Homo sapiens: one gene and its partners. The protein of the gene in region 4 interacts with the protein of the main gene of each other region in a biochemical or structural test. Each region holds a gene or a part of one and is shown on either strand. Other genes may lie near its edges.

The links.
Region 1: the proteins of NCL (region 4) and RAD51 form a complex in vitro, tested with the Homo sapiens proteins (one study listed by BioGRID).
Region 2: of the proteins of NCL (region 4) and CSNK2A2, one has a biochemical effect on the other in vitro, tested with the Homo sapiens proteins (one study listed by BioGRID).
Region 3: the proteins of NCL (region 4) and ADAP1 form a complex in vitro, tested with the Homo sapiens proteins (2 studies listed by BioGRID).
Region 5: the proteins of NCL (region 4) and ADAP2 form a complex in vitro, tested with the Homo sapiens proteins (one study listed by BioGRID).
Region 6: the proteins of NCL (region 4) and TOP1 form a complex in vitro, tested with the Homo sapiens proteins (2 studies listed by BioGRID and IntAct).
Region 7: the proteins of NCL (region 4) and TERT form a complex in vitro, tested with the Homo sapiens proteins (one study listed by BioGRID).

Annotation. Positions count from the first base shown.
Region 1 is NC_000015.10:40,712,174-40,715,673, forward strand, and holds part of RAD51 (DNA repair protein RAD51 homolog 1), read left to right. Parts: intron 1-3,500.
Region 2 is NC_000016.10:58,170,607-58,174,106, forward strand, and holds part of CSNK2A2 (casein kinase II subunit alpha'), read right to left. Parts: intron 681-3,500; exon of another isoform or gene 1-680.
Region 3 is NC_000007.14:948,181-951,680, forward strand, and holds part of ADAP1 (arf-GAP with dual PH domain-containing protein 1), read right to left. Parts: intron 1-3,500. UniProt on the Homo sapiens protein: GTPase-activating protein for the ADP ribosylation factor family. Binds phosphatidylinositol 3,4,5-trisphosphate (PtdInsP3) and inositol 1,3,4,5-tetrakisphosphate (InsP4). Regulates the incorporation of CD63 and CD9 into multivesicular bodies.
Region 4 is NC_000002.12:231,454,485-231,457,984, forward strand, and holds part of NCL (nucleolin), read right to left. Parts: intron 3,317-3,500; coding exon 3,159-3,316; intron 2,641-3,158; coding exon 2,517-2,640; intron 2,281-2,516; coding exon 2,147-2,280; intron 2,040-2,146; exon of another isoform or gene 1,960-2,039; intron 1,653-1,959; coding exon 1,526-1,652; intron 1,453-1,525; exon of another isoform or gene 1,316-1,452; intron 1,141-1,315; coding exon 917-1,140; intron 784-916; coding exon 707-783; 3' UTR 1-706. UniProt on the Homo sapiens protein: Nucleolin is the major nucleolar protein of growing eukaryotic cells. It is found associated with intranucleolar chromatin and pre-ribosomal particles. It induces chromatin decondensation by binding to histone H1.
Region 5 is NC_000017.11:30,938,945-30,942,444, reverse strand, and holds part of ADAP2 (arf-GAP with dual PH domain-containing protein 2), read right to left. Parts: intron 1-3,500. UniProt on the Homo sapiens protein: GTPase-activating protein for the ADP ribosylation factor family. Binds phosphatidylinositol 3,4,5-trisphosphate (PtdInsP3) and inositol 1,3,4,5-tetrakisphosphate (InsP4). Possesses a stoichiometry of two binding sites for InsP4 with identical affinity.
Region 6 is NC_000020.11:41,031,822-41,035,321, forward strand, and holds part of TOP1 (DNA topoisomerase 1), read left to right. Parts: intron 1-3,500. UniProt on the Homo sapiens protein: Releases the supercoiling and torsional tension of DNA introduced during the DNA replication and transcription by transiently cleaving and rejoining one strand of the DNA duplex.
Region 7 is NC_000005.10:1,267,569-1,271,068, forward strand, and holds part of TERT (telomerase reverse transcriptase), read right to left. Parts: intron 1,066-3,500; coding exon 952-1,065; intron 1-951. UniProt on the Homo sapiens protein: Telomerase is a ribonucleoprotein enzyme essential for the replication of chromosome termini in most eukaryotes. Active in progenitor and cancer cells. Inactive, or very low activity, in normal somatic cells.

The DNA of each region.
Region 1 (3,500 bases), on a different chromosome or scaffold from region 4:
TAGTGACAATAAAGAGAAGTAGGGAAAAGATGTTGTAAAGGGCAGCGCTTGATGACTGACAATAAAAAATACACCTCAGCCCAACAATGTATTACAGTAACTTAGTAAACCTAAAAAGTGTTTGAGAGGGGAAGACAGTTTTGTTGGAAACATGAGTACAGGTTTAGAGATGACAGGTTTGAGGTGACAAACCCCGAGTGAAAATTTCTAGCTGTATTGAGAGATGTGGAACTAAGTCACACAGAGAAGTAAAAATGGAATCTGGAAACGAAAGATCCATGAGAAAGGAAGGGAGTAGGATATAGAAGAGAAAGCTAACAAACTTTCATCTTTTCTGCAACTTCAGGCAGTGTAATGGGGAGCCGTTTTTCCTTGTCTAAGTGAGTCTTAATGTTCTCTGGCTTTAAGGATGTGCTGCATAAGTGGCCAGTCCACAAAGTATCCTTGAACCTGGCCCATGCCCATGGACCAACTCTTCTGTTATAATCTTTTGAAGCTTTATTATAATTTTAGTTATTTTGAAAAACATGGCATTATTTTAATCTAGATAGATTATACCCACTTCTGCCATGGGCACAACTTACTGTTGGAGATCAAAACAACTGAAACAAAATCTGCCTTATATCAGTGTTACAGAAGAGGCTTCCTAGTGTTTTTCTATCCTCGGGACTCAACTCTGTTGAGTTTTTTTTTCTTTTCTTTTCTTTTTTTTTTTTTTTTTTTGAGAAAGAGTCTTGCTCTGTTGCCCAGGCTGTAGTGCAGTGGTGTGATCTTGGCTTGCTGCAACCTCTGCCTCCCAGGTTCAAGCCATTCTCCTGCCTCAGCCTCCCGAATAGCTGGGATTACAGGCATGACGGCCACCACGTCCAGCTAATTTTTGTATTTTTAGTAGAGACGAGGTTTCACCATGTTGGCCAGGCTGGTCTCAAACTCCTGACCTCAAGTTAATCTGCCCGCCTTGGCCTCCCAAAGTGCTGGGATTACAGGAGTGAGCCACCGTGCCTGGCCCAAGTTTATTTAAATTTAACATCAAGTAACCTAGCTTGATAGCCTCCCATTTTTCTTATTTTCCTTTTTTTTTTTTTTTTTATTTGAGACGGAGTCTCTGTCGCCTAGGCAGGAGTGCAGTGGCGCAATCTTGGCTCACTGCAACCTCCATCTCCTGGGTTCAAGCAGTTCTCCAGCCTCAGCCTCCCAAACTGGGATTACAGGTGCCTGCCACCCAACACAGCTAATTTTTTGTATTTTTAGTAGAGACAAGGTCTTGCTGTGTTGGCCAGGCTGGTCTTGAACTCCTGACCTCAGGTGATCCACCCGCCTCAGCCTCCCAAAGTGCTGGGATTACAGGTGTGAGCCACCATGCCCGGCTTTTTGTTGTCATTTTAATTGTTTATTGCTCCACTGATATTTTCTTTGCAGACCAAAATGTTACAATTTTTTTTTTTTTTTTTGAGGCGGAGTCTCATTCTGTCGCCTGGGCTGGAGTGCAGTGGTGCCATCTCTGCTCACTGCAAGCTCCGCCTCCTGGGTTCACGCCATTTTCCTGCCTCAGCCTCCCGAGTAGCTGGGACTACAGGCGCCCGCCACCACGCCTGGCTAATTTTTTGTATTTTTAGTAGAGACAGGTTTTCACCGTATTAGCCAGGATGGTCTCGATCTCCTGACCTTGTGATCCGCCCACCTTGGTCTCTCAAAATGCTGGGATTACAGGTGTGAGCCACCGTGCCTGGCTGGCTGCCATATGTCTTATGAGACAGCCAAGCTAGCATGTCAGTATCGAGTAGACCTAATCCATTGTTAACTCTCCTCAGAAATAAATTCTTTTTTTTTTTTTTTTTTGAGATTGGGTCTCACTATGTTGCACCGGCTGTTCTTGAACTCCTGAGCGCAAGCAATCCTCCAACCTCAGCCTCCCACATAGCTGGGATTACAGGTGAATGCCTCTGCACCCAGATCCTCATAATCATTAGGAAGAAAGAGCTGAGGGGGAGGGGTGGAGGAGGATGCTTAGGAGACCTTTTATGATAATAAGGGAGGAAACATTGAGAAGAGGAAGAGTAAGTTATAGAAGCTATAGCTATTGCGTGAGCTCCATTAGAAATTTGATAGCTAAAGGGAATTAGGGCTGTTTAAAATGTCACTCTTACATCCGTCATTTGACATGATATGTGACCTTTTTAAATAGAAATGTTTTCCCATGTTTTGACAGGGACTTATGTAGAATAAGTATTTAGACTACAGTACATAATATCTATAGTTGCCATGGCAACTCAGCATAGCATGCTGACACTCCAAAGTTGTACAAATAGAATCCTAATCTGAGAATGTTTAAGTAGTCAGATAATGTCTGTCAACAATAAACTAAAGCAAAATTCTCAAGTAAATATAGCCTGTTAAAATAACATTTACAGATGGCTGAACAACTATATAGATCGTTGACTTTTTTTAAAGAAAAAGAATGCTAATTAATTAATAATAGAAAAGATTACATTTCATCAGCCTAAGAGCTGGAACCAGGGATATAGAGAGGATGTTAGACTATTACTTAAATCTAAATATTATCTACTCTCATTTGTTTTCTCAATTTAATGAAGTAAAACCCCATTATATGTTAGGTCTCTCTCTAATAGAAAAGTCATAAAGTTGAGAGCTACAGTTAGGTTACAAAATGAATTAGCCCATGCTTGTTCAAAGTACTGCAGTAGTTTTAAAATTCTGGGCCGGGTATGGTGGCTCATGCTTGTAATTCCAGCACTTTGGGAGGCTGAGGCCGGAGGATTGCTTGAACCCAGGAGTTCCAGACAAGACTGGGGAATATGGCGAGATCCCATTTCAATTAAAAAATAAAAACAGTTCTGAGAAGACAATTTAACATAAGTACCAGTTTTAAAAGCACATGCCCATGCGGGCATGGTGGCTCACGCCTGTAATCCCAGCACTTTGGGAGGCTGAGGTGGATGGATCACAAGGTCAGGAGTTCAAGAACAGCCTGGCCAAGATGGTGCAACCCTGTCTCTACTAAAAATACAAAAATTAGCCAGGCGTGGGGGTGGGCGCCTGTAATCCCAGCTACTTGGGAGGCTGAGGCAGAGAATTGCTTGAACCTGGGAAGTGGAGGTTGCAGTGAGCTGAGATCGTGCCACTGCACTCCAGCCTGGGCAACAGAGTAAGATTCTGTCTCAAAAAAAAACCAAAAACCAAAAAACCACAAAACAAAAAAATCACATACCCTTTGACAGAAAATTTGTCTTACAGAACATTTCACATATATGCAAAGATAAATGTACAAATAATTTATACCAAAGCATAATTAAAATGGTAAAAGTTAGAAACATACTGCATCACTATAAAATGAGAAGTGTTAAATTATGCTCCTAAGCAGTTATTAAGAAGAGCTAACCTGATGGTATCCCAATCCAGTAACAGAAGATGGCTATGATGGCACTGGGAGGGCAAGGTAGAAAGGGCCAAATAAGCTGGAGAACAGAGCATGCAATCCA
Region 2 (3,500 bases), on a different chromosome or scaffold from region 4:
GGTTCAAGTTTCTCCACATTCTCATCAACACCTGTCATTGTTCAACTTTTTGATTATAGCTTTGCTGGTGGGTGTAAAGTGGTATCTCCATGTGGTTTTGATTTTTATTTCCATAATGAGTGATGAAGTGGAACTTCTTTTTATGTGTCTACCGGCCATTCTAAATCTTCTTTGGAGAAATGCTGATTCAAATCTTTCAATCATTTATTAGATTGTTAAGCTCCATTTTTTTAATGTAAAAATTTGCTTCTAAATCTCCCTTGCCTAACATAATAACTATCTTCATAAACTTCAAATTCAGGACCTTTGGCTAATCTTAACAAGCACCTGAATCCTACACAAGGTCAATGAAATACTCTTCAAGTAGAATCCCTGTCCTCTACCTACCACTAGAGCCCCCCTCCAGTTTTAACAACCAAAAATGGTTCCAGATTTTGCCCAATGTCCCCTGGGGGACAAGCTTGACCTGGATAAGAAGCAATAAACTAGACTCTTGAGGACACTTGAATGGACTTCTTCATGCTGGAGGAGTACACAAGGCAGAGAATGAGCCCTAGGATTAGCATTCCAGGAATAAGCTCCCTCGATCTGTGCTTTTCCCTGAACCAAGAGTATACAATATAGAATGCTTGTTATGGCCAGGCGTGGTGGCTCACGCCTGTAATCCCAGCAGTTTGGGGGCCAAGGCGGGCAGATCACGAGGTCAGGAGTTTTGAGACCAGCCTGACCAACAGGGTGAAACCCCGTTTCTACTAAAAATACAAAAATTAGCCAGGTGTGGTGGTGCGTGCCTGTAATCCCAACTACTCAGGAGGCCGAGGCGGGAGAACTGCTTGAACCCGGGAGGTGGAGGTTGCAGTGAGCCGAGATCATGCCACCGCACTCCAGCCTGGGCGACAGATAAAAAAAGAAAGAATGCTTGTTATTTGAAGATCAAGAACAGGCACTACTAACTATGGGGATACATATAAAGATATAATCTTCAGAGGAGACACTGAACAGAAGAACACAAGAGAGCCCTGCAGGATGTTCACAATATCCTCTACCAGCCCTGTCCAATAGGACCTTCTGCAATGATGGAAATATTCTATTCCTGCACTCTATAATACGGTAGCCACTAGCCACATGAGGCCACTGAGCACCTGAAATGTGCCTAGTGTGATTAGGGAACTAAATTTTATTTTATTATTTTATTTTTTTGTACAGGGCCTTGCTCTGTTGCCCAGGCTAGAGTGCAGTGGCATGATCTCAGCTCACTGCAACCTCTGCCTCACAGGCTCAAGTGGATCCTCCCACCTCCACCTCCTGAGTAGCTGGAACCATAGGCATGTACCACTACACCTGGAGCATGCATATATATATATATATATATATTTTTTTTTTTTTTTTTTTTTTGGTAGCTATGGGGCTTTGCCATGTTGCCCAGGCTGGTCTTGAACTCCTGAGCTCAAGCAATCAACCTGCCTTGGCCTCCCGAAGCATTGGGATTTATAGGCGTGAGCCACCGAGTCTGGCCAGCAACTAAATTTTGAATTTTACTTAATTTAAATAGCTACCTATGGGCAGTGGTTACTAACTATACTGGATATCATCGTCCTGTGTAAATCTGGGTGAGAGTTTTACATACACAAACATCCAAAAGACTGTACGTTTAAGATTTATTTACTTCACTTACATTCTACTTCAATTTTTTCCCTCTGTTTTATAATAACTGTAGCAAGATTCCAAAGTGCCTTTGTGGCAGTGCTTTATGAAACCAGGGGTTGTGAGGGCAGACCTCCTTGAATCTGAATCAGGAGATCAGGTTAAGTCACCGAGTCATCACACTGCAGCCCTCAGCCTCAGTTGCTTCTACATTTTCAAAGGAGTTAAATATTTAGTCTTCCCCACTCCTGTTTTTTCTTTTCAAAGAGAAAATTTACCAAGTGTTGATTCTGCTATATTGCCTACTCTTTGTCCAAAGGAATAAACTAATTAAGACCACAATACCTGGCATGTGAAAAATACTCAATGAAAGCAAAGGCTGAACAAATACAGTAAGGTAATTAATTCTTTTGCCAAGTTTCCTAGTCGGACTCCCTATGGAGTTACTGACATGCTTTGAAATTCTTTGGGGAATTATTTCAGTTTTAAAATCTCGTACAGTTTCTGACCATTAAGCATGAATGACGTTTTTCAAGTTTCATCTGGGATTCTACGTCTCATTAGCAAAAATAAGTATATGTCCTCACTGCCTAGCTGCTACCTCCAGAAAGCAGAAAGGACATCAGACATTGAGTGACACCCACATGTCCACCTGGGAAGACCTGCATTAGTTGGATGTCTTTATGGGACCTAAGGGCAGGCTAGCTTATACAACTTTAGCTTTGGCTGATGGTTAAATAACACAAAATCTCAAACCATCTTACTTAAAAATAACCAACTGTGAGATCTGAATTGTAGCTCTCATGGGGTGAGAGTGCATGGGATTACTCAGGAAGCACTTCCAGGAAAGGAGCTAGCCTGACAGTTCACAGGATCATGGCACTGCAAATTTTATCCACACCAATGCTTCAATTTTAGTCTAGAGAAGACATGGAGAAACGTGGGATAAATCAAGCTCGACCTTTTTCGTGTTTCTGATCTTACTGACAAAAAGGAAGACCCATTAGCCATAAGAGTGAACCTTAAATCCACCACCTCAGCTTTCTCTAATAAAAAGTGGTGCGTACAAGTTCTTATAAAAACACATTCATTTCATAGAACTGTTCTTAAGATCTACAACTACCCTAAAACTTTTCACAAGACTGCATATTAATACATGCATTTTTGGAGGCAGTTCATAGTTTTCATTAGGTTCTTAGTGATCCAGGACACAAAAATCTAGGACCCATGGGTGTATTCCATTTTACAAACTGAGCATTCCTTTAAGTGCTTATCTAGACAAACAAAATGATCATTCCTCCACCAACCAGTAATTCTTCAAATTTCATTGTGCTTGGGATTAGTAAGTCTCTTAGACATTCTACCCATCACTTTTCCCTGCATTAACGAGCCACGGCTACAGGGGTAGGTTAGGAAGACTCATGCAAGAAGGGGATGACGACACATGGCAAGGAAAGATGGCTGCAAATGCCTGCCACCCCTGTAGGCATGTCTCTCTATAATATGCCTACATATTCAATGCTTTTCCCATCAAGAGTGGAGTCGGTTTTTCCATGCTTTGAAGCTAGGCTTGGCCATGTGATTTGCTTTGGCCAATAGGGTTATTAGCAAATATGACACAGGTAGAGGGTTGAAAAGTGCCTATACATTGAGGTTTCCCTCTCTCTGCTGCTAGGAACCCCAGGAGGACCACCATGGGAAGCAGCATGAACTTCACAGGCTGGAGGATGAGACCTCAGCTATCCCTGCTGCCCCAGCTGTGGTCCTAGATTGTGAATGAGGTCATCCTGGACCATCCTGCCCCAGTCAAATCAACTGAGACCTAAAGAATCACCTGGCTAACTCAATTATAAGAA
Region 3 (3,500 bases), on a different chromosome or scaffold from region 4:
GACCCAGCCATGTCTGTCCCTCCCTCCTCACCCCATGTCTGCCCTGCCCCCTTGCCCGGGTGGGATCCCAGGTCCATCAGTGCAATGCCCTCTGCCCCTCACCCCTCCCTCCATCATTCAGTACGGAGCCCACCTCTGTACCCACCGAGGCCTGAGCTTCTGAATGGAACACGCCCTGCAGAAGCGCTCCATGGTGGCCCGAGTTTCGGCTTCCCTCCCCGCCGGCCCATGGCCTGGCCTCGTCCTCCATGAGGAAAACAGTCACTTCCAAAGCCTTCCCCTGCATGCCAGGCCGAGCTCCCACTGCAGGTCTCTGCCCCGGTCTTAGCAGAACTTCTCCAAATGCATCTCCAGGTGCCACGACCCCCTCTGGCCTCTCATTCACCTGCTAAGCTGTCACCACCACCACCTGGACAGTGACTTGGGGTCAGTTTGCTCCTCCCTGACCCACCTCCCAGCCCATAGGTGCCCAGTACTCCTTCCTGAAAACGCGTTTACGGGGCATCCAAGATTCTATGTCCTTTTTTTTCCCTTGAGACAGAATATCACTCTGTCGCCCAGGCTGGAGTGCAGTGGCATGATCTCGGCTCTCTGCAACCTCTGCCTACCAGGTTCGAGCGATTCTCCCACCTCAACCTCCCGAGTAGCTGGGATTTCAGGCGTGCGCCACCACACCCAACTAATTTTTGTATTTTTAGTAGAGATGGGGTTTCACCATGTTGGCCAGGATGGTCCTGATCTCCTGACCTCGTGATCCTCCCGCCTCAGCCTCCCAAAGTGCTGGGATTACAGGCGTGAGCCACCATGCCCGGCCCTCACTCACAATTCTTACTCTACCCTCGGCCCTCCTTGTCCCCAAGTGCCATCACCATCTGTCTGTCTTTGTCTCCCCACCAAGGAACAGCAGATGCTGAGAGTGAAGGGCTGGTCTGGTCCGGTCTCCCTGAGCCCCAGTGACTGCACAGGGCAAGGCACTCAGTACATGTGTACGGAGCGGGGGAAGGCGCCTTGCCCGCCGGAGTCCAGGGTAGGGCACCACTGGAGTTCAGCCCTTGTGGGCCTCTGCCTCCCCCGGGCACATGAGCACATACCTCCTGGCCACACGGCCACGTGCCGCCTCAGCCACCTTGGACCCCACCAAGTCCCTTCCTGTTTCCTCATTCTTTCATTTGCAAAATGGGGCCATGCAGCCACCTGACGGGTGACGGGAGAAGCAGTTGGGGGATGCGGCTGGCTGCCAGGTACTGCCACAGAGCAAGGCTTGGCAAATGCCTCTGAGTCTAAAACGGCAGTGGCCTAGGAGCACAGGGCCTGGGGGCAGGGGCAGTGCCACACCTAACCTGAGATATGTCCAGAGCTGAGGTCTAGCTCACAGCATCTGTGCGTCGGGGAAGCTGGCTGCGGTCACGGCCGGTGCAGCGGCCCAAGGAGTCCACAAAGCAGTAACCTTGGCCCACACCACAGCTCCGGTGCATTTGGAGAGGGGGCCCAGTCTAGGCTGAAGTTGGGGGGAGCCTGGCCAGGGCCTGGGCACCAGGCGCAGGACAGAGGGAAAGGCCTCCAGCTCCTCCCAGCCCTGAGTGCCAGCTCATCGCCCACACCAGCCCTCCACACCCGGCCACAGGGCAGGCAGGCAGGAAGCGGGCACGTGTGACCTGCTGGCCTGTGGCTTGAGTGCAAAACCAGGTAGGGGAAACCTGTCTAGCAGTTCTTCAACCAGGTAAGCACAGAATCGCCATGGGACCCAGCAACTCCAGTCCTGGGTACAGACCCAAACAACCTGAAGCAGGGTCTCAGAGAGACATCTGCACCCTCGTGCTCACACAGCACGATTCACAATGGCCCAGAGGTGGGAGCAGCCCAGTGTCCGCCTGCAGACAAACGGGCACACGCAATGTGGTTCATCCACACAGGGTATGATCCTGTCTTCACATGCAGGGAAATCCCAGCACTCGCCACAGCATCTGTGAACCTGGAGACGTTAGACTGAGTGAAACTGGCCAGTCACAAAAGAATGAATACCAGCCGGGCATGGTGGCTCACACCTGTAATCCCAGCACTTCGGGAGGCCGAGGCAGGCGGATCACAAGGTCAGGAGATCGAGACCGTCCTGGCTAACGTGGTGAAACCCCATCTCTACTAAAAATACAGAAAACTTAGCCGGGCATGGCAGCGTGCACCTGTAGTCCCAGCTACTCGGGAGGCTGAGGCAGGAGAATGGCATGAGCCTGGGAGGCGGAGCTTGCAGTGAGCTGAGAAGGTGCCACTGCACTCCAGCCTGGGCGACAGAATGAGACTCTGCCTCAAAAAAAAAAAAAAAAAAAAATGAATACCGCATGGTTTCACTTCTACAAGGTCCCTGGAGTCATAAGATTCATAGAGACAGAAAGTTGAGGCCAGGCACGGTGGCTCATGCCTGTAATCCCAGCCATTTGGGAGGCCAAGTTGGGAGGATGACCTGAGGTCAGGAGTTCAAGACCAGCCTGGCCAACATGGCGAAACCCTGTCTCTACCAAAAATACAAAAATTAGCCGGGCGTGGTGGCAGGCGCCTGTAATCCCAGCTACTCAGGGGACTGAGGCAGGAGAATCGTTTGAACCCAGGAGGCAGAGGTTGCAGTGAGCTGAAATGGCGCCACTGCATTCCAGCCTTGGGAACAGAGCAAGACTCCGTCTCAAAAAAAAAAAAAAAAAAAAAACAAGAAAAGAACAGAAAGTAGAAGGGTGGGTGCCCCGGACTGGGGAGAGGAAATCTGGAGCCCTTGTTGAATGGGGACAGAGCTTCAGTTTGGGAAGATGAGGAGGTTCTGGAGATGATGGTGGTGGCGGTGGCACGGTGAGTGAACGTGCTCAAGGCCCTGGAACTGTGCACTCGAAACGATGAGAAGGTAAATTATTATTTTTAAAAAATCCGGCCAGGCGCGGTGGCTCATGCCTGGAATCCCAGCACTTTGGGAGGCCGAGGCGGGTGGATCACGAGGTCAGGAGACGGAGACCATCCTGGCTAACATGGTGAAACCCCATCTCTACTAAAAATACAAAAATTAGCCGGGCGTGGTGGCGGGTGCCTGTAGTCCCAGCTACTCGGGAGGCTGAGGCAGGAGAATGGTGTGAACCTGGGAGGGGGAGCTTGCAGTGAGCCGAGATCGCACCACTGCAGTCCAGCCTGGGCGACAGAGCGAGACTCCGTCTCAAAAAAAAAAAAAAATATCCAACCTAGTTGGGCCGCTGCCCTGGGGAGTGAAGGGAGTCTGCCCAGCCCCCGCCCACACTCAGCAGCCTTCTTCCCACCCTCACCCATGCCGGCCAAATTCCTGAAACTGGGAGTTGGAGGTTGCAGTGAGCAAAGATCGTGCCACTGCACTGTAGCCTGGGTGACATCGAGAGACTGTCTTAAAAAAAAAAATTAGCTGGGCATGGTGGCATGGACCTGTAGTCCCAGCTACTCAGGAGGCTGAGGTGGGAGGATTGCTTGAGCCCTGGAGGCAGAGGCTGCAGTGA
Region 4 (3,500 bases):
CCTGCACCTCTTTCCAGAGTGGTCTTCAGGACATAATCCTCAGACCTGCTAAAAGTAGGAGAAGCTGCAGCAGCCTTCAAGTCAGCACCAGGGCTGCAGGAGCAGGTCCCCTCACCAGCATTTCAACCAAGTTAGTTAGGGCTGGGATACTGGAAACACGCACTAAGCCATTTCCATTGGGATGGGTGAAGCAAGTGGCAGAGCTGGCTTTGCCATGCTCTCCAGTGACATTCCAGGGGAAACACTCTTTAGGAAGTAACACGTCTGGCACCAGAGTTGACTTTTAATTTGTCCTAAAGCCGCTGAAGCAAAAACCATGATAAAACATTCTGCTTTCTTTTCTTTTACAACCCCACGAACGCAAAAAAAAAAAAAACAAAAACAAAACAAAAAAAAGAAACAACAACAAAACCCAAACTATTTGTAGGAAAAAATGGTTTTGTACATGGGATGAAACAATATAAATTCAAAACTTACAGATAAGGGTTAGCTCTATCACTCAACTCTTTAAAAAGTTTATATGAATATCCAGTCAAAACCAACACGGTATTGCCCTTGAAATGTTAACTAGACGGATTTCCAAGGAGACCACAGGACTGTATACTGTCTTGGAATGTCCTCAGAAGGCTCTGTCATTGATCAGGTAACAGTAAAAACCCCAGAGTCCTTTCTTTCAAATGGAAAAGGGAAAGCAGAGGGACAGAAGCTATTCAAACTTCGTCTTCTTTCCTTGTGGCTTGTGGTCACCTCCTCCTCCTCTGCCTCCTCGGAAGCCTCCTCGCCCTACAGGAGGAAGGCAAGACACTGTTAAAAGAATGGGTACAAAGCTCCTCCTCCCCAGTGATTAGGAACCGTGACAGGGCACAGGGTCTGAAGAGCACATGCTATGTGGTGTCATTATCTCTGCGTGCCTTACCTCCAAAGCCTCCCCGGCCTCTGCCACCAAATCCTCCTCGGCCTCCTCTACCACCACCTCGTCCTCCAAAGCCGCCTCTGCCTCCACCACGACCCCCGAAGCCACCTTCACCCTTAGGTTTGGCCCAGTCCAAGGTAACTTTATTTCCATCAATTTCACCGTCTTCCATGGCCTCCTTGGCAGCTTTGGCATCCTCCTCACTGTTGAAGTCTACAAAACCAAACCTAGAACACCAAATGAAATTGCCCATTATAAAAAGCACCTACTACACATGTCCCAAGTTAACTGTACATGCTGGGGAGCCATCCCACAGAAAGTAGCCTTGTTTATTTGGGAAAAGATACCAGTGACAGAGTAGCTCTCTATGGAAAACTAACTGGTGTGACAGCTTGAACCCCAGAATGTCTCACAATACAGCTAAATATACCTCTGTAAAGACAGAAGGTAAAATAATGCTAGTTCTGTGAATTCTCTCTTCTTCTCGTGCGAATCCATAAACTGCCACTGATAGACAGAAAGGAGCTCAATGAGAAGACACATTAGACTCAAGGTCTGCACAGAACAAAAACCCCTTCAAGTGGAAGCAGCACTCACGCTTCCTTCCCTTACCCTTTGGAGGACCCAGTTTCCCGGTCAGTAACTATCCTTGCCCGAACGGAGCCGTCAAATGACTCCTTTAATGTCTCTTCAGTGGTATCCTCAGACAGGCCTTTGACAAACAGAGTTTTGGATGGCTCTGGGAAGGAAAAAAAAATGTGACTTTATGTGAAGTCACAGTTCGTAACACTGAATTTGCACAATGCCTAGTATGACTACTAGCCAAGAATACTTGTTATAGTGAAAAAGCAGTTAAAAGCAACTAAGCCAACTAGTCCTTAATTAAAGTAAAGGCTATTCTGGGTTTACATTTTTTAATTGCCATTGCATAGTTGATATCCTGCCCCAGATCTTCTATGGAAAGTGGGAGAAGCAACCCAAGCAGGTGGGGCCCAGTGGATGGGGCAGGAAATCATGGGCAAACTTGCTACTCTGAGTTGACACAGCTGGATCAGAACTTGACTATCTAGAGGAATTTTCTTGAGATTTCATCAATTATTTCTCAGGTAATCAGTCATCATATCCAGTTATTGTTCACTCAGTAGCAACAGGAAACACAGAATTTGTGCAAAAAATAAACAAAGCACCGAGAGTGCTACCCCCAACCACAGCACCCTAACCAGGTGAACTTACGGCTTCTGGCATTAGGTGATCCCCTGGGTCCTTGCAACTCCAGCCTGATTGCTCTGCCCTCAATTTCCCTTTTATTACAGGAATTTAAAGCTTCTTTAGCGTCTTCGAATGAAGCAAACTCTATAAATGCATACCTGAGGATGAACAGTTAATGCTTAGAGTAAGTTACCAGGCACATGCTCCTTCACTGTCACATGATGCTGCCAAGCCCCTTCTCTCAAGTTGGTACCTAAATGATGATCTTTATTTTACACTCATTTACGTAGCTAAAATTATTTGGCTTTTCTGACAGGATCACATGACCTTACGTTCCTTTAGACCTCTAAGACATATATAGCCTATAACTGATGATACAAAGGTATTATCTTACCCTTTAGATTTGCCATTTTGGTTCTGGGGTACTTTGATAAAAGTTGCTTTCTCAAATACTTCCTGAAGAGTTTCTTCTGTTGCACTGTAGGAGAGGTTGCTTAAAACCAGAGTTTTTGATTCACCTGCAAATAGAGATGCCACATTCCTAAGACTCTGAAACAGTGGTTCCCAGCTTCGGTCACAACAGTAATATCTTATTCCTAAGAATTTCAGTGCTTGAGTTAATATACAAATACTCATGACGTAAGCTAAATCCATTTCTGTTACTCAACATATTAAGTACCTAGTACGTGTTGCAATGTCCTGCTGGTTGTTCTTACATAGGCTGATGACTGGTCTGTTTTCCTAGAATCATCTGAGTTCAAAACGCACATGGTCAAGTCATTTAAAGTATAAAACATGCCTACAAAGGAAGCTTGATTTGCCTACTGTATTCCAATGCAAAATGATTTTAGAGCTCTCATTCAAGATTGGAAATTACTATTCCAAATAAGAGTATGACTTGGGGTATCATGTCCTTGATCTTCACCTACATTTGAGTAACTTTGATTAAAAAGTATTTATAAACTTATGAAATACAAAGACACAAAGGAGTTCCCTCCACCAATTCTGAAACCTTGTAACAAGCCTAATTTCTTACCACTCCAAGTGCTATTCTTTCCACCTCTATAGTCTTGATTTTGACCTTTCTCTCCAGTATAGTACAGGGAAATAGATCGCCCATCGATCTCTGTTCCCTGCTTTTCTTCAAAGGTTTTCTCTGCATCAGCTTCTGTCTTAAATTCAATATAAGCAATCCTGCAATGGAGGGAGAAGAACTCATGGTTTTTAAAACCATATTAACACAAATGCTTTTACCTCAGCAACACAGAACTTGCTTCAGATCTGAGTACAATAAATGCCCTTAGTTTTATGCCACTTTTCAATCAAAACTCGAGCTTCCCTCTTACTTCCCACTAGTTTTACAAATACTTGGAATTTT
Region 5 (3,500 bases), on a different chromosome or scaffold from region 4:
CTAGAGACTGCCAAATTATTCTGCTGAATGGCTCAACAGTGATTGTACCAATATTTACTTCCATCAATGAAATAGAATAGTTCCCCTTTCCCCATATACTCACCAACACTTGACACTACCAGATTACAAAATTTTTGCCAATATGATGGGTATGGAATTGTATCTCATTGTTAATTTTCACTTAATCAACATTTATTGAGGTGTAGTTTAGAAACAATAAAGTGTACCCGTATTAAGTTTGGGCCGGGCACTGTGGCTCACACCTGTTATCCCAGCACTTTGGGAGGCCGAGGCAGGTGGATCACGAGGTTGAGAGATCGAGACCATCCTGGCCAACATGGTGAAATCCTGTCTCTACTAAAAATACAAAAATTAGCTGGGAGTGGTGGTACACACCTGTAGTCCCAGCTACTAGTGAGGGTGAGGAAGGAGAATCGCTTGACCCCAGGAGGCGGAGGCTGCAGTGAGCCAAGATCGCACCACTGCACTCCAGCCTGGTGACAGAGCAAGACTCCATCTCGAAAAAAAAAAAATAGTTTGATTTTTGACAAATGTATATACCCATGTAACCACAACAATCAAGATATAAAACATTACTTATCATCCTAAATGTCACCCCAAAAGACTTCACTCATCCCCCTTCGCAGAATCTCTACCCCATTCCAACACCAGATAACCACTTATTTGTCTTCTATCAGTACAGTTTTGCCTGTTCTAAAATTTCATATAAATGAGATCATATAATACTCTTATACAAGGTGACTTAGAAAAGTTCATGGAAAACACATAGTATGAAAAAGCTATGCATGGATTTCAAATTGTTTTGCACCAAAATAAACTCATACTAACTTGTTATAACATGTCTGAGTGGGATTTTGTTTGAGGCACTAAGAAGGATACGACATCAACTTGAAAACAGCCCCTCTCAGAGCAACATGAATTCTGCTAAAATTGAAGCAAGAACAAACATCAACATTTATGGTGAAGCTTGGATGGAAGAATGGTGAAATCACTGGTGCTTTCAGAAAAGTTTACGGGGACAAATCCCCAACAAAATTAGCAGTTTACAAATGGATAACTTGTTAAGGAGGGACAAGATGATGTTGAAGATGGCGCCTGCAGCAGCAGACCATCTACATCAATTTACAATGAAAAAAATCATCTTGTTCATGCCCTAATTGAAGAGAAGCAATAATTAACAGCACAAACAATAGCTAACACCACAGATACCTCAATTGGTGCAGCTCACACAAATCTGACTGAAAAATTAAAGCTGGGCAAACTTTCCACTCAATGGGTACCAATGCCATTGCACCCAGATCAGTTGCAGACAAGAGCAGAGCTTTCAATGGAAATTTTAAACAAGTGAGATCAAGATCCTGAGGCAGTTCTTTGAAGAACTGTAACAGGAGATGAAACATGGCTTTACCAGTATGATCCTGAAGACAAAGCATAATCAAAGCAATGGCTACCGAGAGGTTGAAGTGGTCCTGTCATAGCAAAAGCAGACCAGTCAAGAACAAAGGCCATGGTAAAGTTTTCTGGGAGATGCTCAAGGTATTTTGCTTGTTGACTTTCTAGAGGGCCAAAGAACAATAACATCTGCTCATTATGAGAGTGTTTTGAGAAAGTTAGCCAAAGCTTCAGCAGAAAAACATCTGAGAAAACTTCACCAGAGAGTCCTTCTCCCCCAGGACAATGCTTCAACTACATTTCTCTCATCAAACAAGGGCAATTTTGTGAGAGTTTCAATGGGAAGTGATTATGCATCATCTTACAGTCCAAATTCGGCTCCTTCTAACTTCTTTTTGTTTTCTAATCTTAAAAAATCTGTAAAGGAGGCCGGGCATGGTGGCTCACGCCTGTAATCCCAGCACTTTCAGAGACCAAGGCGGGCGAATCACTTGAGGTCAGGAGTTCGAGACCAGCCTGGCCAACATGGTGAAACCCCGTCTCTACTAAAAATACAAAAATTAGCCCAGCATGGTGGCCAACGCCTGTAATCCCAGCTCCTGGGGAGGCTGAGGCAGGACAATCACTTGAACCTGGGAGGCGAAGGTTGCAGTGAGCCGAGATCGTGCCACTGTACTCCAGCCTGGGCGATGAAGCGAGACTCCATCTCGAAAAAAAAAAAATCTGTAAAGGGTACCCATCTTTCTTCAGTTAATAGTGTAAAAAAAAAGGCCAGGCGTGGTGACTTATGTCTGTTATCCTAGCACTTTGGGAGACTGAGGCTGGTAGATCGGTTGAGTTCAGGAGTTCAAGACCAACCTGGGCAACATGATGAAATCCTGTCGTTGCCAAAAAATACAAAAATTAGCCAGGCATGGTGGTGTGTGCCTGAAGTCTCAGCTACTCGGGAGGCTGAGGTGGAAGGAGCGCTTGAGCCTGGGAGGTTGTGGCTGCAGTGAGCTAGAATTGCACCACTGTACTCCAGCCTTGGTGAAAGAGCAAGACCCTGTCTCAGAAAACAGCATAAAAAAACAAAATGTAAAAAAGACTGCATTGGCATGGTTAAATTCCCAGGACCCTCAATTGCTAGGGGATGGACTAAATGGCTGGTGTCATCACTTATAAAAGTGTCTTGACCTTGATGGAGCTTATGTTGAGAAATAAAGTTTATATCTTTAATTTTAATCTCATTTGTCCAATACCTTTTTTTTTTTTTTTTTTGGAAATGGAATTTTGCTCTTTCGCCCAGGCTGGAGTGCAGTGGCGCCATCTCGGCTCACTGCAAGCTCCGCCTCCCAGGTTCGGGCCATTCTCCTGCCTCAGCCTCCTGAGTATCTGCGACTACAGGCGCCTGCCACCACGCCCAGCTAAGTTTTTGTATTTTTAGTAGAGACGGGATTTCACCGTGTTAGCCAAGATGGTCTCAATCTCCTGACCTCGTGATCTGCCTGCCTCGGCCTCCCAAAGTGCTGGGATTTCAGGTGTGAGCCTCCGAGCCTGGCCTCCAAGAACTTTTTGAAGTGCTTTGTATAGAGCTTGGGGCTTTTTTTTTTTTTTTTCAGTTTCACTTTCTTTATACTTCATTTCCTTTTTTGTATTACCCAAAAGTTTTACCTAAAAATTAGTTACCTTTATGATTTTAAAATATCCACTTTGGGAAATAAATAAAAAAGAACATAGGGAGCCCATTCTATTTTTGGACTATTCTAGACTGAACTGGCGTAGGACTGAAAAACAGATCAACTTTTTTCAACCAATGATGAGGCCCTGTCCGAGAGACCAACTCGCAGCAGCTGCTGGGGTTTGGTGACCTTTCCTAACTGCAGTAGCGCTTTCTCTTCCGGCCTTTTGTACCATTTCAGCAAAAATGTTGAAAAAGCCACATTTTTCAGTGCTTTACATTGAAGACTGGGAAAAAATTCTTCCTCTAACTTGGAGGGTAAAGATTCTTCATCCCTTAACACTTTTTACTTGGTCCCAGACTGTGGCCACATTGGACAGACCTTTTATATTATTATTTATACAAATTTATGGGGTACATGTGAAAT
Region 6 (3,500 bases), on a different chromosome or scaffold from region 4:
TATTTTCTTACAGAGCTGAAAAAGGAGAGAAGGAAGGATTTGATAATTTGTCATTTGCTTTTTATCTAAACATGCTTTTTGAAGAGAATCTGCCACCATAAAGTTCTGACATTGGTGTAATTATTCTTTGTGAATATTGTCTGGAAGATGTGGTGTTGGTAACTATGCTTGCTATCTCAAGTAATACATTGTTAACCAGTGATTGATTTATGTAACTATGAAAAAAACTTTAAAAAAAGTAGAAATCAATGTTTAATTATGCCCAGACATGTCATTATTGAACTTTGTATTAAGAGATTGTTTAAGCGTGATTTTAAGAGGGCCTAACCCATCTTACAGATTAACTGTACAAGTTCATATATTAAAATCAAACGTCTCTCATTTTGCCTGCCCTCATCCCCTAAGATATAAAAGATTCCCCCCCGTCCCCCCACTTTGGAGCTCATTCTTCGCAATATTTAAAATTGTAGCTCTTTGCATGTAATTTAGAACATTCTGACCCATACTCAACTGCTGGGAGACTCTGTTATTTATATTTAAAATGTTGACAGTGAGTTAGGAATTTGGAGCAGAAACCATATCTAAGTCTAAGTGAAAAGACTTCCTAAGTATTGGTAGAACTAACTGTAGTGGGGCTGAGTCATTATTACAGTACTGTACAGGCTGCGTAGCTATCTGTAGAATTGATAATGGTAATACCAGGTTAAAGTGTTAGCGATTCTTCTGCTGTTTCAGAGGTCTTGAAGTTTTTGCCTGTCTGCTATGGAGATAGGGAGTTCTCCCCCATTTGACCCCCTTAGCAAAGCACAATACTTGGCTCCATCAGTCTTTAGTCTAAGAAGTGATATATAGGATCATGGTTTGACATCATCTTGTGCTGATTCTGGTTGGCTTAATGGAATCAAATTGGATGAAGGTAATTAAATATGAATTGTTTCTGATGCTAATAGATAGTTGTACTTCTGTCTGTTGGGTATGGGTTGGGATGGGCGGTAGCATAGCTGATTGCGGTGGGGGAATTTCAGATAGCTGATGATGTGGCTATCTGAAAATTGCCACTACATTTTTAAAACTGAAAAGTGATGGTACCGCCAAATGAAATCTGCAGCATCCTCAGACTCAATCAGGAAATACTTAAGCATTATGCTCCAGGGTGGTTTTCTTCCCTTACATTGCAACTGGACTCCTTGAGGCACCTTTTTAGAATTAGTGAGCCGCTAGGATTTTTATACTATGCTTTGACATAAAAGAAAGTTGCTTGTCAATATGTGTTTTTTTAGTTTACCAGCATATCAGATCTCACAAACAAATTTTAGGCTCGGATTGGATGTTTCTAGTAAAAACAAGAAAATCCAGGCATCACTAAAAGAATCAGAAATACGTTGTGGCTTGAAAGGTGCAAACTAAATAATATAGCTAGCAGTAACGGTCACCAACTCCTGCTTTTCTTTGGTTCAGTAGATAGAGTAAAATGGAAAATAGGAAACCAAGGTCAGTCCCCAAATCTCATTTTAACCAATAGCAGCAAAAAAAAAAAAAAAAAAAAGGAATTGAGTCTGACTTTTTCCCCTTGCTGTCAGCATAAAGATGGGGAATTGAGAGAGTTGGAAAGACATTCATTAGTTTGTTCAGATTATTAAATAACATGTCTTAAAGTTTATATTCCAAAATTGGGCTGTGAGGTTTTTTTGTTTTGCTTGTTTTCAGTGCATGTGTGGGGTGGGGAGGTGCAAAAAAATGTTTGCCTTCTAATATACAGCTTTGTTGTATATTAATTATATAGTAACAGTTGTCCCTGCTGCTAATGGTATGGAAAATGATTCTGTTGTGCTTTCTGAATACATATCATTTTAGAAGTTTCAGATTATACTAAAACCATGTTATTTCATATTAGTTGGACATGAATGCATATTTATATGACACATCATTATCAACTTTTGCCTTTTGCCATCTTTTTAGTGCAAAGTAAAACTGATATTCTTCAAATCCAAAGTCGTTTCCTCAGAAGTGTGTTTTGTGAGGGATTGCATCTTTCCCATGTGAAACTGTGTCGAACTCCAGTAAACTGTGTTTGCTTGGGAAAATGAATTCAAATGTAATTAGTTTGAATGAAGCTGTGGAAATGTTTGAAATGAGTATTTTGACATTGGACCTGGAGGTTTAAAAAAAAAAACCCTATTGAAAGAATAGTAAAATATATTGGATGTGGAGGTGAGAGTCAGTTGAGTGAATTTTCTGTGTTGTATGGTTTAGATTATCTGACTATCCCTTAATTATTTTGAAACCATTAACTTTGGATAATAAGGGCATTTAGGCAAACAGTTGACACATGGATTTCTTAAGGTAAAAAGTTTAGAGACTTCCAAACTAGTCCTTAAGAGGCGAATGGGTATTGTGTTTAAAGGAAGCTTTCAGATTGTGTTTAAACTTCGAGTAGTAATATTTGGAACTGTCTTTTCTCCCTATTTCCATGCCTCATACATCTCAAGTTTGAGCAGCAGCTTTCCATCCCCATGGCTCCAGGCCAATAGCTGCAGTAGAAAATCTAAAATAGAGGCCAGGGTTGGAATAATTAGCATTTTGCCAACCCCCACCCTCCCTGCCACCTGCCTATCTAGATGTGGACAGTATGTGCTGTGTTGATAGCATAGGGCCTGGGAAGGGTGGAGAGGGATGTAAATGAGGGCAGGGTGGACAAAGTTTGATTGGGGGTTGCGGGGAAGCTTGTAGAGGAATGTCTGTTAGATATTGATGGTATTTTGGTGGCGTTATGAGAAATGGCTGATAGTTTGCTGAAATGATTTAATAGTAAATAGATATTGTTGAACATTTTCTGTGTGTATAGGAAAGATCCTAGATATTTTTCACACTGGGAGAGAAGTGATGTTACTGGTATCTCATGCATATCTCTGGAGTATATAGATCGTAATATCAACTTTGGCTATCTGTATCGAAGTTTGTATTAACTGTCTTTATGTGTGTCATTTATGTCTCTTAACGTTTAGTAAGAAAGAAATTCCAAGGAAGGTAGGCAACTTTTAATTTTAACTTCTTTCCTTTACTTTTTTTTTGGGCGGGGTGGGGGGCAGACAGGGTTTCTGTTTGTTGCCCGGGCTGGAGCGCAGTAGTGTGATTGCAGCTCACTGCAACCTCTGCCTCCTGGGCTCAAGCGATCCTCCTACCTCACCCTCCCAAGTAGCTGGAACTACAGGTGCATGTCACCACGCCGGGCTAATTTTTGCATTTTTTGTAGAGACGAGGTTTCTCGCCATGTTGCCCAGGCTGGTCTTGAACCCCTGGGCTCAAGCAGCCTGCCCACCTCAGCCTCTCAAAGTGCTGGGCATGAGCCACTGTGCCTGACCCTTAATTTCTTTTTGGTAGGTATTCATTTTTCATTTGTTGTCTTAAGCTTCTAGTTTCACTCACTTACCTGTCTGCTAAATTTTTCTGAAATGTGTAATAAATGTTTTAATTTACCATCTCCCTTCTACCCTTCCCAT
Region 7 (3,500 bases), on a different chromosome or scaffold from region 4:
GACTTGCAACCAACCCAAATGTCCATCGATGATAGACTGGATTAAGAAAATGTGGCACATATACACCACGGAATACTATGCAGTCATAAAAAAGGATGAGTTCATGTCCTTTGTAGGGACATGGACGAAGCTGGAAACCATCACTCTGAGCAAACTATTGCAAGGAAAGAAAACCAAACACCACATGTTCTCACTCACAGGTGGGAACTGAACAATGAGAACACTTGGACACAGGGTGGGGAACATCACACACCAGGGCCTGTCATGGGATGGGGGGAGTGGGGAGGGATAGCATTAGGAGATATACCTAATGTAAATGATGAGTTAATGGGTGCAGCACACCAACATGGCACATGTATACATATGTAACTAACCTGCACGTCGTGCACATGTACCCTAGAACTTAAAGTATTAAAAAAAAAAAAGTAACTGCTGTCAATAAAAGCCAGCTGAGTTGAACCACATTAGGTTGGCACGATATTTAGGTGTGTGCGTCCTTGGGTGTAGACCCCATGCAAGTGGGATGGGCAATGGGCTGAAGAGGCGCCCAGTCCAGGCCACCTGTCGAGGGCCTGCTGGGAGATGTGGGGCCTCAGGCTGCACCAGCCCCATCTCCCCAAGGACCCTAACGGAACCTGGGTGACGTGACAGAAGCTGGTGTGCTTCCTCGGTGTTGAATTCACATGCTCATCATGCAGGGCAGCGGCCCTCCCGCCTGCTGAGCCCTGAGGCCTCTGGACATGGCCGCTGGACAGAGCCTGCGTGGAGCCCGCAGTCCTCAGGCTGTGCAACCCCTCCCGTGCGGCTTCATACCAAGAAGGGGCTGCAACCTTGTCTGGTTCCTCAAGACAGAGCAGTCATGGTCTCCAGAGCACCAGGAATATTAACACTGAATGCATCAAAAGCAAATCAACCCCCACCCAAGCCCCCCTGGGGAAGAGGAGGCCTCACCCGTCCCGCCGAATCCCCGCAAACAGCTTGTTCTCCATGTCGCCGTAGCACAGGCTGCAGAGCAGCGTGGAGAGGATGGAGCCCTGCGGGATCCCCTGGCACTGGACGTAGGACCTGGGGCGGGAAGACACAGGTGAGAGACGGGCAGGGCATGTGCTGGACATGCGTACACTCAAACCGAGCCACACACAGACACAGAACCTCATACACACAAACGACACGTCTACCATTCAGCCGGCAAACACCTCAGAAACATACCAGATGAGACCTCTGAACAAACAATCCCTGCTCCCCACTCTCACCATGCACTGGGGCGGCTGAAACAGATCCAGCCACAGGTGTGACCACATCCTTGCTCTGAATCATCAAGGTTTTCTTTCATTAAGGTTTCTTAAATCTTAGAGTTTATTCACAGAACCAGACACTTGACCCGGAATGAATGCTTAACCGGACTCCTTTTTTTTTTTTCAAGGAATTTGTCCACGGTGAAAGACTCATGACCCTACATGTAGCCGCTGCGCGCCAACGGATACAACCTTGCCCCTAGTTTCAGCATGACCAACGAGAAGCAGAAACTCTCCAAACAAGGATGCCAAGGGTGCGTTTTCAGACAAACAGTGAGAGCAGAATAGCCCCGTGGAACCTAAAGGTGCACACAGAAGGCATGGCTGCCACGCGACCCTCAGCCATCCCCAGAGCCCACAGGACGCCACTCCTGTTGCTAAGAGACGCTTGCAGCCTACTGCAAAAACAAGACCTGTTATTTTCGGGAAGCGCTATAGGTGGTCACCTTAAAAAGAGGCTTTCCGGCTGGGCGTGATGGCTCACACCTGTAATCCCAGCACTTTGGGAGGCCGAGGTGGGTGGATCACCTGAGGTCAGGAGTTCGAGACCAGCCTGGCCAACATGGCAAAAACCCCTCTCTACTAAAAATACAAAAATTAGCCAGGCGCAGGGGGTGGGTGCCTGTAATCTCAGCTGCTCGGGAGGCTGAGGCAGGAGAAATGCTGGAACCCGGGAGGCGGAGGTTGCAGTGAGTTGAGATCGCGCCACTGCACTCAAGCCCAGGCAGACAACAGTGACGTTCCGTCTCAAAAAAAAAAAAAGAAAGAAAAGAAAAGAGGCTTTCCTTGCTGGTGCAGATATCACAGTGATGGGCAAGAGGACTGCACTTTTTGCACAGAAGCACACGCACCAACTCTAGGAGTCCGGCCAGCCCAGCGAGTCAACGCAAGCAGATACGCCCCTGTGAGCACATGGGATGGGAAACTCTCTCTGTTCTTAGTTTTTGGGGCAACAGGTTTTGAAGACGTTTTTATTCAGAGGCCAAACTGGACCACGATGGGGACTAGAGCTTCGGGCCTGTCCGTGTCCTAGGGACAGGACAGACACAGTCACCTCCTGTCTGTCAGGGCATGAGGACGCAGTCATCACCTCACATTCCCCAAAGCCCTGCCACACGTGGACGGTACGTGACTTGATCCATCTTAATAAAATTCACGACCACGAAGGAGGCCCGTGGTGGCTTCTCTGGGGAGGTGACTTTGTCAGCGAATTCTGTGGGCCTGGGGGCCGCTTACACACATGTGCACACGTGTCCCTCGGCCAAAATTCACTCTGCTGCCATGTGCAATTTGTGTTTTTCCAGAACGTGTGTACTACTTAATATTTCTAATTATACTTTAATAAATATTATAATTGCTGATACCATTAGTGATTACTTATAATGCAATAATTAATAGTTATATTTTTAAATAAAAGCTTCCGAAGCTGTGCACAGTCCTTTATCCGCTGGAGACGATCCCAGAGAGAGGCCTCCACGTTCCACCTGACTGCGGATGACCTTGCTGATGACCTTGAGTGTGCACGAATTTCCTCCGTGCTACCACTCTCCCCAGGCACACACAGGGTCGCAGGCAGATGCCTGCCGGGAGGTGTGTGGTTTTACTTAAAATCCAGAGGACGTGATGTGGCACCAGGCACTGTGGCTCTACCACCGTGAGTGTGGCTCACCCAGTGGCTGTGTGACGGCAGCTCTCCCAGGCCGCCTGCCCCATGGCCACCACAGGCCCCCCGAGAGGAGCAAACTACACGGTCAACCCCGCACTTTCCAGATGGGAAATCTAGTCACAGAGAGAAGAGCCCGCGCCCTCGCGGGGGTCACACGACAGGGACAGGAATGAGAATCGGATAAAATCCTTTTGTATCGGGAGAGAGAGATACAAGCGTGTGAGAGCCGGGTGTCCAGCGTCAGTAGTAACTTGGAGCTGACAAGCTGCAGGCTCAAACGCTCGGCGCACACCTGACCCAGACACACCCCCCGCCCCTCGTCCTCCACGCAGGAGCAACTCCACACCCCGCTTGCCATTTCCAGGCCTCGTGTGGCACCTGCTCCGCTCCGGCTGCCGCAAGCCGAGCCATGTTTCCGGGGCCTCGGGAGCCTGCAGCCCAGGAGCCGGAGGGGGCGGGGGCCAGAAAAGGAGACTCTGGTGGCCCCGGGCAGAAGGGCAGTGGGGAAGGGGCAGGAGAGAGGTGAGCAGAAGCCCTGC